Linked DNA regions of Homo sapiens. The protein of the gene in region 2 purifies or fractionates together with the protein of the main gene of each other region. This does not show direct contact. Each region holds a gene or a part of one and is shown on either strand. Other genes may lie near its edges.

Region 1 (4,528 bases), on a different chromosome or scaffold from region 2:
ATCTATCAATATCATGATAACCACAGGCACAGCCAACACATGTGAAGGGGCCACCTTCCCCATCCGCATTTTATAGACAAAGAACCTGAGCCCAAAGAGAGGAGGCAATGGGCCCAACTTCACAAAGAAAGTGCCAAGAATGCTTTGCACTTTTGCAAAGATTGGTGGTTTGAGTTCACCAAGATTCAAACACAAGGGACTGACTCTAGACCCCTGCGTTTACTCCCCAGGCTGTAAATGTTAAGGTAAAATATTCTGATGGTATAGGTTGAAATATAAAATGTACCATGTGACCCATGCATTCTACTTCTAGAAACCTACCGCCCCCCCAAAAAAATGCCATGTAGAAGATACATACGTGTCTTTACTGACTTGAACCTTTATGTAAAGTCAGTAAAGACCCATATGTATCTTCTTCATGGCATTTTTTTTTTTCGAGACAGAAGGTAGGTAAAATGACATGTGTCACTTTGACAAAGGGTCTCACTTCGTCACCCAGGCTTGAGTGCCGTGGCGTGATTTCAGCTCACTGCAGCCTTGACGTCCTGGCCTCAAGTGATCTCCCACCTCAGCCTCCCAAGTAGCTGGAACTACAGGTGTGCACCACTGCACCCAGCTAATTTTTTTGTATTTTTAGAGATGGGGTTTTGCCATGCTGCCCAAGCTGGGCTGGAACTCCTGAGCTCAAGGAATCTTCCCACGTTGGCTTCCCAAAGTGCTGAGATTACAGGCATGTGGCACCTCACAGAAATCCAGAAAGCGGCAACAGCCTAAAGATCCACCACTGGGAAGAGAGGTGAACAGACCATGGTATATCCACACAATGGACTACCAAGCCGCTGGTAAAAAGACAAAGACAGATCTCTAAGCACTGATGGGGAGTGATGTAATTGATCAATGAGGTGAAAAAAGCAAGTTGCAGAACAATACACAGCAGGGAAAAAAATCCCAATTCATATCCATAAAATAAAACAAAGTCTCTCGGTGAGTTTTAAGGTATTTATTTAAACATTAAGAACATTTAAGAACCACTCCAAACTAGCAGTAGTTACCTCATGATTTTAAGATTGAGGCCAGGCGCGGTGGCTCACGCCTGTAATCCCAGCACTTTGGGAAGCTGAGGCAGGCAGATCACTTGAGGTCAGGAGTTCAAGACCAGCCTGGCCAACATGGTGAAACCCCATCTCTACTAAAAATACAAAAATTAGCCGGGTGTGTTGGCGGGTGCCTGTAATCCTAGCTACTTGGGAGGCTGAGGCAGGAGAATCACTTGAACCCGGGAGGCAGAGGTTGCAGTGAGCTGAGATCACATCACCTCACTCAAACCTGGGCGACAGAGCAAGACTCCACCTCAAAAAAAAAAAAAAAAGATTGAAGCGTTGGCAAACTTATTAGTTTCTACTTTTAACTACTTCAGTCTGATCTGACATGTTTCCAGAAGCCTGTGTTTTTTCCTAATCCACTCAGTAAACTATGCAGCTCATGAGTATTTATGAGCTTATAAATATTTAAATGAAGAGTAGAGACATAATATTAGATGTACAGTCTGATTAAAGCCAAAAAAAAAAAAACATTTAAAAATACTGGAAGGAAGTAAATTTATTTTGATCCTATTAAAGTTGTGAAGAGGTGATACTTACGGACACTTTTCACCACTCATTTTTTTCAAATATTCTGTGGATATACTTCTCTTCATAATAAAAATTAGAATAAACATAAAAATTATGAGGCATCTGTCAAGAAGTTGATGTATCAACTGCCATTACATAAAAATTAGTTTTGCTGTTATCCAGAAAATGTAAACATATTCATGAAATTTCTATTTTTACTGGAGATTTCTTTTTTAACCAGAAGTCCATGTTCATTATTTTTAAAATTAATGTATAAGTTTTAGTTTACAAGTATATAAAATTTTATGCAAAAAAGTAAATACATAAGCACAAATTAAAATTACCCATAATTACACCACCTAAAAGAATAACTTCTAGCCAGATGTGGTGGCTCTTGTGTGTAATCCCAGCACTTTGGGAGGCTGAGGCGGGCAGATCACCTGAGGTCAGGAGTTCAAGACCAGCCTGGCCAACATGGAGAAACCCTGCCTCTACTAAATGTACAAAATTAGCCGGGCATGGTGGCACATGCCTGTAATCCCAGCTACTCGGGAGGCTGAGGCAGGAGAATCGCTTGAACCCGGGAGGTGAAGGTTACGGTGAGCCAAGATGGTGCCAATTGCACTCCAGCCTGGGCGACAAGAGTGAAACTTTATCTCAAAAAAAAAAAAAAAAAGAATAATTTCTAATATTCAAGATGATGACAATGTATTATTGTTCTGTAAAATGCATTTTTCATTTAATTTACTATGAACACGTTTCCATTTCAATTAAAGAGGGTCTCCATCATCAATCTTAATGACAGTCTAGAATTCATTGTATAAATATTCCATAATCACTCTGCCCTACGCTTTAGTATTGAACAATTGGGTTTTTTGGTTTTTTAATTGTTGATTTTTTTCGGTTTCGGTTGTTAACATAAACAACACTGCAATGAACATCCTCTCCATGCTTCTCATGGAAGTTCTCCAGTTGTTTGCTAAAGATAAGTTCCTACAAAAACAAATGGCAGTAAGAGATTTCTTCAATGAGCATGTGTTAGATTTTTAATCGAAAAGAAGTAAGAAGGAAAGTTCAGAGAACCAGAAGGCTTCTGCATTAACTTTCTGTGCAGGGCATGTTTCAGGGACTCAGGGCCCCTTCCTTGCACCCTATGAGGCACCGCCTGTCTCTTGGGGCTACTTACCAGTTCATTCCTCTCATCTGCCAACAGCGTATTTCTGTCTTCCAGCTTCCGTATCACTGAATTCAGTTCAGCAATTTTTAGTTGAAATCGCCTCACATCTCGCTCGTCCATATGTTGATCCTAAAAAAAAAAAAAAAAAAAAAAAAAAAGTCAAGACGTAAATGTACTTTGAAGAAGTTGTGTGGAGCCTTCTTAGAAAATTCACATGACATAATGGGTGAGATCCTTATTCAGGGGCCCACATGCCACACAGCAAGGTGGGGAACACCCAAGCCCACTGCACACCTGCGGAAGACTCCATCTAGACGGCCACTGAGACTTCAAACCCTTCCGTGGCTCCCTGGGGCCCTTGTGGTCAGGCCCCTCCCACCCCGTATCTCTTACAAAGGCCGCCACGCACCGGCACCTCACACAGCGTCCAGCACAAAGAACTTATAACATCCCCTCCAATACTGAGTGAATGAATGAATGAGTGAATACATGCCACCTCAGAGTCCTCTGTGGCTGACCAGAAAAATGCCACCTAAATGGGTGGGGGACCAGCCTGAGGCTGGCACAAGCTGCTGCCCCTCACCTGGACGCCCATGAGCTCCACCATGTCCCCGATCCCGGGCGGGAGCTCTCTCTTTGGACTACTGTGGTGCCGCTCGGCCTCCTTGACCTGAACCAGCTGCTCATCCAAAGCCTCTTTCTGCAGAAGCAGCTTCTGGGTCTGCCCAGCCTGCACGCCAAGTTCCTTCTCCAAGGCCAGAATCACACGGTCTTTCCCTTTGATCTCATCCATCTGAAAAGGAGAAAGAATAAGCAGTCAGCCCTAGGGGCTCATGACCAAGGAAATCTCTCCCCAAATTGGGGCCTTCGGCCCAGGGAAAGGTCAAAGCAGTGTCTCGGGCCTGGGTCAACTGAATTCAGTAAACTCCAGACACAGAGCAAGCACAGCCCGCAGCCCAGGGCTTGTTCCCCGTCACTCCCACAAGACAGAGGAGACAGAGCTAAGGGTTGAAGCACATACATATTCAACCTGACATGCATACTGACATCAGTGTATGCTCCTGTCTCTCTCACTTTAATGAGATACAATAAAACACTGCCGGCCCCCAGCCAGGCCTCTGCAGCTCAGCTTCTTGGCAGAGCTGGCTTCTCTCTCCGTCTCCAGGACCATGTCTCCCTCTCAGTCATTGACCCTCTCCTGCCTGGCCACAACTCCCCAACCCTCACCACCAGACAGCTCCTGCCAAGGTCACCAGTGCTCTCCTGGCCACCGAACCCACCGGACAACGTTGTCCTCCCGCCCTGACTCCGTCACCCACTCCCAGACTCACGACCTCCTGCTCCCTCTCCCCAAGGCCACTTCCCATGGTTTCTATCTTCTTTATAGACTGTCTTGCTCTGGCTCTCATTGAAGCCTGGAGTTTCCAAGGCTCGGGCCTCTTCTCACTCTATATCCTCTCCCAGGCAGCCAGGTCCTCCCCGACGGTATCAACCCCACATATGCAGCAGATCTTAAACACATGCCTCAGCCCTGGCTTCTCTCTGAGCTCCACAATCACAGAACCAGCTGGCTGCCTGACACCTCTGCTTGGATCTCGGAGGGACCACAGCCTCTCCACGTACAAACCTGAACTTAATCTTCAGTTCACCCCCAGCCCTGTCTTGTCCAGCCTTCCTATGGGGGAGTGTCAGAAAGGACACAGGCTCAACACAGTGGGCCGGGTGACAGTGAGGAACCACA
Region 2 (5,556 bases):
TAAAGCTTAATATCATAAGTATGTATTTTAAAACTCATCCTTTTTTAAAAAAGACACACTAATATCCCAATTTTTACTGGGAAAATAATACAAACAGGCAATTGCCAAGAAACATAAAAAATACCTATACTACAACAAAACACTTTAAAAAGTGTTCTATTTCACCACAATAAGAGAAATACCAATTAAAATATAGAAATTTTCATCTGTCAAATTGGAAAAATTAAAGGAAATGGAGCTATTCAAAATCAAATTTTCAAACAATATGTAAAGATTTGGGGAAATTACACTAGGATATTAAATAAAAATGCAGAATTTTTACTTTCCTCTTGTTTTCAAATCTTATACAATCAGCATTTTTATAAACAAACAAAAAAAGTTTTAATAGACCAAAAAAATGAGATTCCATCCTAAGTGTGTGATGAAAGGAAACTAGTTAATTTTGATAAAAGCGTGATAGCCAACAGCTCTCATCTGTTGAGTGCTTACAGGGAATCATGCACTGTTCTAGGTGCTTTATACTTTTACCAACACATTTAATTCTTGCACTAGTCCTTATGATAGTGTCATCCCTATTTCACAGAAGACAACTGAGGCACAAGAAGAGAAAGACAGTCACATAGCTGGTAAGTAAAGAAATCGAATCACACAAAAGCAGTCAGACTCCAAAGTCCATCCGCTTCATCATCATCATCATACCACACCACCTCACCATCAGGCCACAAGATGAATACTACACAATCGTGGAAAACAATGTTCTAAAAGAATATTTCATTTCAAGGAAAAGTATTCACAACATAGTAAGTGACTACAAAATCAAATTGAAATCAATAGACAGGATAGGTGTGTGTGAGAGAGAGGAAGAATAAATTTACCTAAACATGTCAGAAAGAATTTACTTAAACATTTGTCAGAATTTACTTAAACATTTGTCAGAAAGAGAAAGAAACCTCGCAGAGTTTCAAAGAAACCTCAGGAATGCGGTCATAAAGTTGGCCTTGCTTGATTTTTCCAGTTTTCCAAGTTCTTCATGACCTCCAGAGCTCTGTACTTCCTTGATAACCAAGTCCCTCCCTTGGCCACAACACTACTAGGTGCAGGATTTGAGGGAGGTCTGCAGAGCTGGGCGTGCCCCTGGTCAGAGGCCTTCTCCCAATCACTATACTGCTGGCAGCAAGAATCAAGGGCAGCCCAACAGCTCACAGCCTACTAACGAAAAAACCCCTCTCATCACTGTCTCCCCACTAAAAGCCACCCAAGAGACCAGTCCCAAGAAAGACACTTTCCCAAAAACATCATTGAGACAATTCCATCAGATGCCCTCTTCACCAGTCACTACCAGACACCCTCCTAAACCTTTCCATCATGGCCTCTGAAATTCATGGTTGGCCAGGCACAGTGGCTCATGCCTGTAATCCCTGCACTTTGGGAGGCCAAGGTGGGCAGATAACCTGAGGTCAGGAGGTCGAGACCAGTCTGGCCAACATGGCGAAACCCTGTCTCTACTGAAAATACAACAATTATCCAGCCATGGTGGCAAATGCCTGTAATCCCAGCTACTCGGGAGGCTGAGGCAGGAGAATCGCTTGAACCTGGGAGGCAGAGGTTGCAGTGAGCCGAGATCGAGCCACTGCACTATAGCCTGGGCGACAGAGCAAGACTCCGTCTCAAACAAATAAATAAATAGTGGAAAGCTGCGCCTGATCTAATGCAAGGCTAACTCTTATACTGAAATCCTTTTCCCTTTCAAGTTTTTCAGGACTTTCCTCCTGGAAATGTCCCCTTTCTCTCCTGCAACCACCATTTCTCCCTCTCACGTCGCCTCTCGTCAGTGTAAATAAATATAACTATCTCCTATCTTTAAAAAGTCCTCCCTACATCCACATGCCCCTCATTTATCACATAAGAAATCAGGAGAAAAGTTTTATTTAACAACTGTAAAAGAGTAAAACTTGATTATTTTTAATTAATTCTTACCGAGTTAAATAATATCAACCTTACCATACTTGGGGGCACATTTAAAGTACTGGACTTTTCCAACACTTCCATTATTTTTTCCTTCTGGTTCATCCAGTTCAATGCCAGCCCACTGCCCACTTGCAAATTCAGTTGTTCCACAAAATCTTAATGTACCAACCTAAAGAAAATATAAACCAGAATAATTTTGGGGAATTATTAGTAATTCCAAGGGTCCTACTCTTGCAACTTTACTTCACCATGGGAGTTTTTAAAAATTCACTCTCTCAAAGTGAATTTTAAAAATTCGCTCTCTCAACATTACCTTTTTATGCTTGGTAATGTTCCTTGCTCTCACTTCAGAGCCAGGAACATTACCAAGGATGAAAAAGAACATTAAATAATAATAAGGGAGTCAATTTCCAAGAAGACATAAGAATCCTAATTAGCTGGATAGTAGCACACACCTGTAGTTCCAGCTACTACAGGGGCTGAGGCAGGAGGGTTGCTTGAGCCCAGGAGTTCGGGGCTACAGTGACCTATGACTGTGCCACTGCACTCCAGCCTAGGCATCAAAGTGAGACTCTTCTCAAAAAAAAAAAAAAAAAAAAAAAGGGATATAACTATGTTGGGAAACTCAATATCCAAGCAGGAATTCCCTGTTCCATTCTCCATACCAAGCTCCCTATTAACCTCAATATTAAGAAAAAACTGAAGGGACAGGGCTAGGGGAGGGATAGCATTAGGAGAAATACCTAATGTAGATGACGGGTTGATGGGTGCAGCAAATCACCATGGCACACGTATGCCTACGTAACAAACCTGCATGTTCTGTGCATGTATTCCAGAACTTAAAGTATAATAAAATAATTAAAAAAAGAAAAAACAAGAAAACCTCCCATATGAGATATTTTTAAAAAGCAACTGGCAATAAATGAATACAATATGGAAACAAAAGCTTGGGAGGAAAAAAGGTGTCTGGATGATGGGAGTAGGAGTCCTCTTTTCCACACAAATCCTTATCACCAGGTTACATAATATCTCAGACTGCCCTATTTGTGGGAACCCAAAGACAAACACCCATGAACAGCAAGGGTCTCCTGTGCTCCATTTCTATGGAGGAGCAGCAGTCAGAGAAGTACCACTGGGGAAAGAGGGGACTGCAAAGATAATCCTCCACCTTAGATCATCCCTTAGCTCATGCTTCTAAATTCACTCAAGAGTTCTACTCCACTCCACTCTTTATTCAAATAAAGATGTCTTCTTTATTAAGTTCAAGTAGTTTATATTCTTAAAGCATAACTTAACAGTAAATTCATATCTAAGTTTTACATTTTCCATTAAGCATCTTTCTACCTACATGTTGAACCTTTTTCAAAAACTCAAAACTCTGACCATACTGTGTCCTTGAACATAGGTCATGGACATAACAACCCTGGCTTCAGAGATTGCAGTTACTTACTGTACCTTCTGTCCTGCAATAACAACACGATCCCCCAACTTCAGGCCAAGTGACGTAAGCATTGCCTTGCCAGTGACATGATCATAATTTGGGAGCATGGCCTTTGAGATGTTACATGACAGAGGCACCGCATCTAGAAGCATCTGCTTGATTTCCTTAGCAGTGGCTGCGGCGTCAGCCATCTCTAACGGCATATCTACTGGGTCTGGAACAACATCAGCAGGGATCTGTCCTTTGTCATTCTACAAATAAAGATAAGAGAAAAATGTTCAACTCTTACTTAGAGCACTAGAAAGTCATATAAAATTTCTGTTGGAAGAACTTTACGTTAAATTCATTCATCATTTGTTTATTCAAAAACATTTCCTGAACGCCTACAATATGCAGACACCATTCTAGGTGCTAAAGATCCTACAGTGAAAAAAACACAAGCCCTGCCCTCAAGGAACATTACATTCTGGTGGGAGAGATAGACCATACAACATTAAACAAGTAAATTATATGTGGCATAATAAACAGTCATAAGTGGCCTGGAGGGAAAAAAAAAAAACAGGGAAGGGGAATAGGAAATGTGGAGACAGAGATGGTTGTAGGGGAAACTCTTTAGATTAAGTGGTCAGGGAGGCCTCACTGATGAGATGCATCTCCACAGAGATCCAAAGCAGACCAGGGAGGAGCTGTGCAGGTTCTCTGGCAGGGAAAAGCAAGGCGTCCATGTGGGGAGCGGTGCTCAGGTCCTAAACGGAGAGCATTCTGCCCGCAGAGGCATGAGAAAGCAAGCTTGGAAACAAAAGTCACAGGACTGACGCTTCCCAGCCCCAGATCCATGGTTCCAGAGCTGCCCTCTTGGCTCTGTGACCTCAGCCCCCTGCCCATTCATGGGGTAACTCAGATTTCAAAACTAGAAACTATGGTTTTGATACTACTAAAACCTGGGCTATAATCAAGAAAAAAGCTCTGTTTTCACTATGACAGAAAGACTGTATCCTGGGATTTGTCCTGTGACAAGATAAAATGGCCAATGACAACCCCACGGTCATTTGCATGGTATATGTATCATAAAAGCCCTATCATATGAATTATCTGTCATCTTACATTCCCTAACCAAAAACCTTAGACTTCATGAGAAATAATTTAGATTGTAATCTTCTTTTAATATAAAGAATAAAGATACTTTTGTTAACTGAGAAACTTTTTTCCCTTTCTTCACTGATACAATCTTCTTCAAATGATTCACATGGAAAAATGAACGAGGCTTTTAGAACACACTTAGTTTGCAATTGCTTCGCATTTTTTTGTTTTAAAATTCAAGTCAGGTTGGTCCTTAGTAGAAATATGGCAAGAAGATATGTTATTAGATGTCTAGGATGGTAATGGACTCTTCTAATCCCAGATTTCAAGAAAACATACAAAATACAATAAAGATATGTGTTACACTAATGTATACTCTCTAAAAAACAGAGAGAGAAAAATAGGGAAACATAAAAATTTTTAAAATACACCCAGGCTAAGTTGTAAGCTATGCTTACAGTGAATATTTTACTTTGGACTTTTGTTATATCCCCACTTTTTGGAACCTGTCACACACTTCTGTTAATTCCCATACAATTCAACAATCGAAACTTCTGTTAAAAAAAAAAAACCTAAATAATAGTAAGAATAATAAAATAACAATGACGATATCTTCCTAAGACAAGAAGGCTTATTCATGATCAATTGTGGAATTCCACTTTCTTCTAAAGTGGTGGCATACCACCAGACTGGACCTATAAAAGACGATTAAGGGAGTTCTACACATGGAAACAAAAGAATAAAACTTGCTACCACAAAAGCATACTTAAGCACATAGTCTATGTTCTTCATAAAGCAACTATACAATTGAGACTAGGAGGCAACTAGCTAACAACACGACAACAGGAACAAAACTTCACATTTCTATATTAACCCTGAAAAAGGTTAATAAAAGATGATTAAGAGAGTTCTAAACATGAAAACAAAAAAATAATACTTGCTGTCACAAAAGCATACATAAGCACATAGTCTATAGACTCCATAAAAGCAACTACACAATCAAGGCTACAAAGCAACTAGCTAACATGAAACAGGAGCTCAACTTCACATATCAATATTAACCCTGA

What was found.
Region 1: the proteins of CLIP4 (region 2) and JAKMIP1 purify together in Homo sapiens (affinity purification with mass spectrometry; one large-scale study listed by BioGRID and IntAct). This does not show direct contact.

The regions. Positions count from the first base shown.
Region 1 is NC_000004.12:6,082,050-6,086,577, forward strand, and holds part of JAKMIP1 (janus kinase and microtubule-interacting protein 1), read right to left. Parts: intron 3,581-4,528; coding exon 3,371-3,580; intron 2,917-3,370; coding exon 2,797-2,916; intron 1-2,796. UniProt on the Homo sapiens protein: Associates with microtubules and may play a role in the microtubule-dependent transport of the GABA-B receptor. May play a role in JAK1 signaling and regulate microtubule cytoskeleton rearrangements.
Region 2 is NC_000002.12:29,141,813-29,147,368, reverse strand, and holds part of CLIP4 (CAP-Gly domain-containing linker protein 4), read right to left. Parts: intron 3,661-5,556; coding exon 3,424-3,660; intron 2,138-3,423; coding exon 2,002-2,137; intron 1-2,001.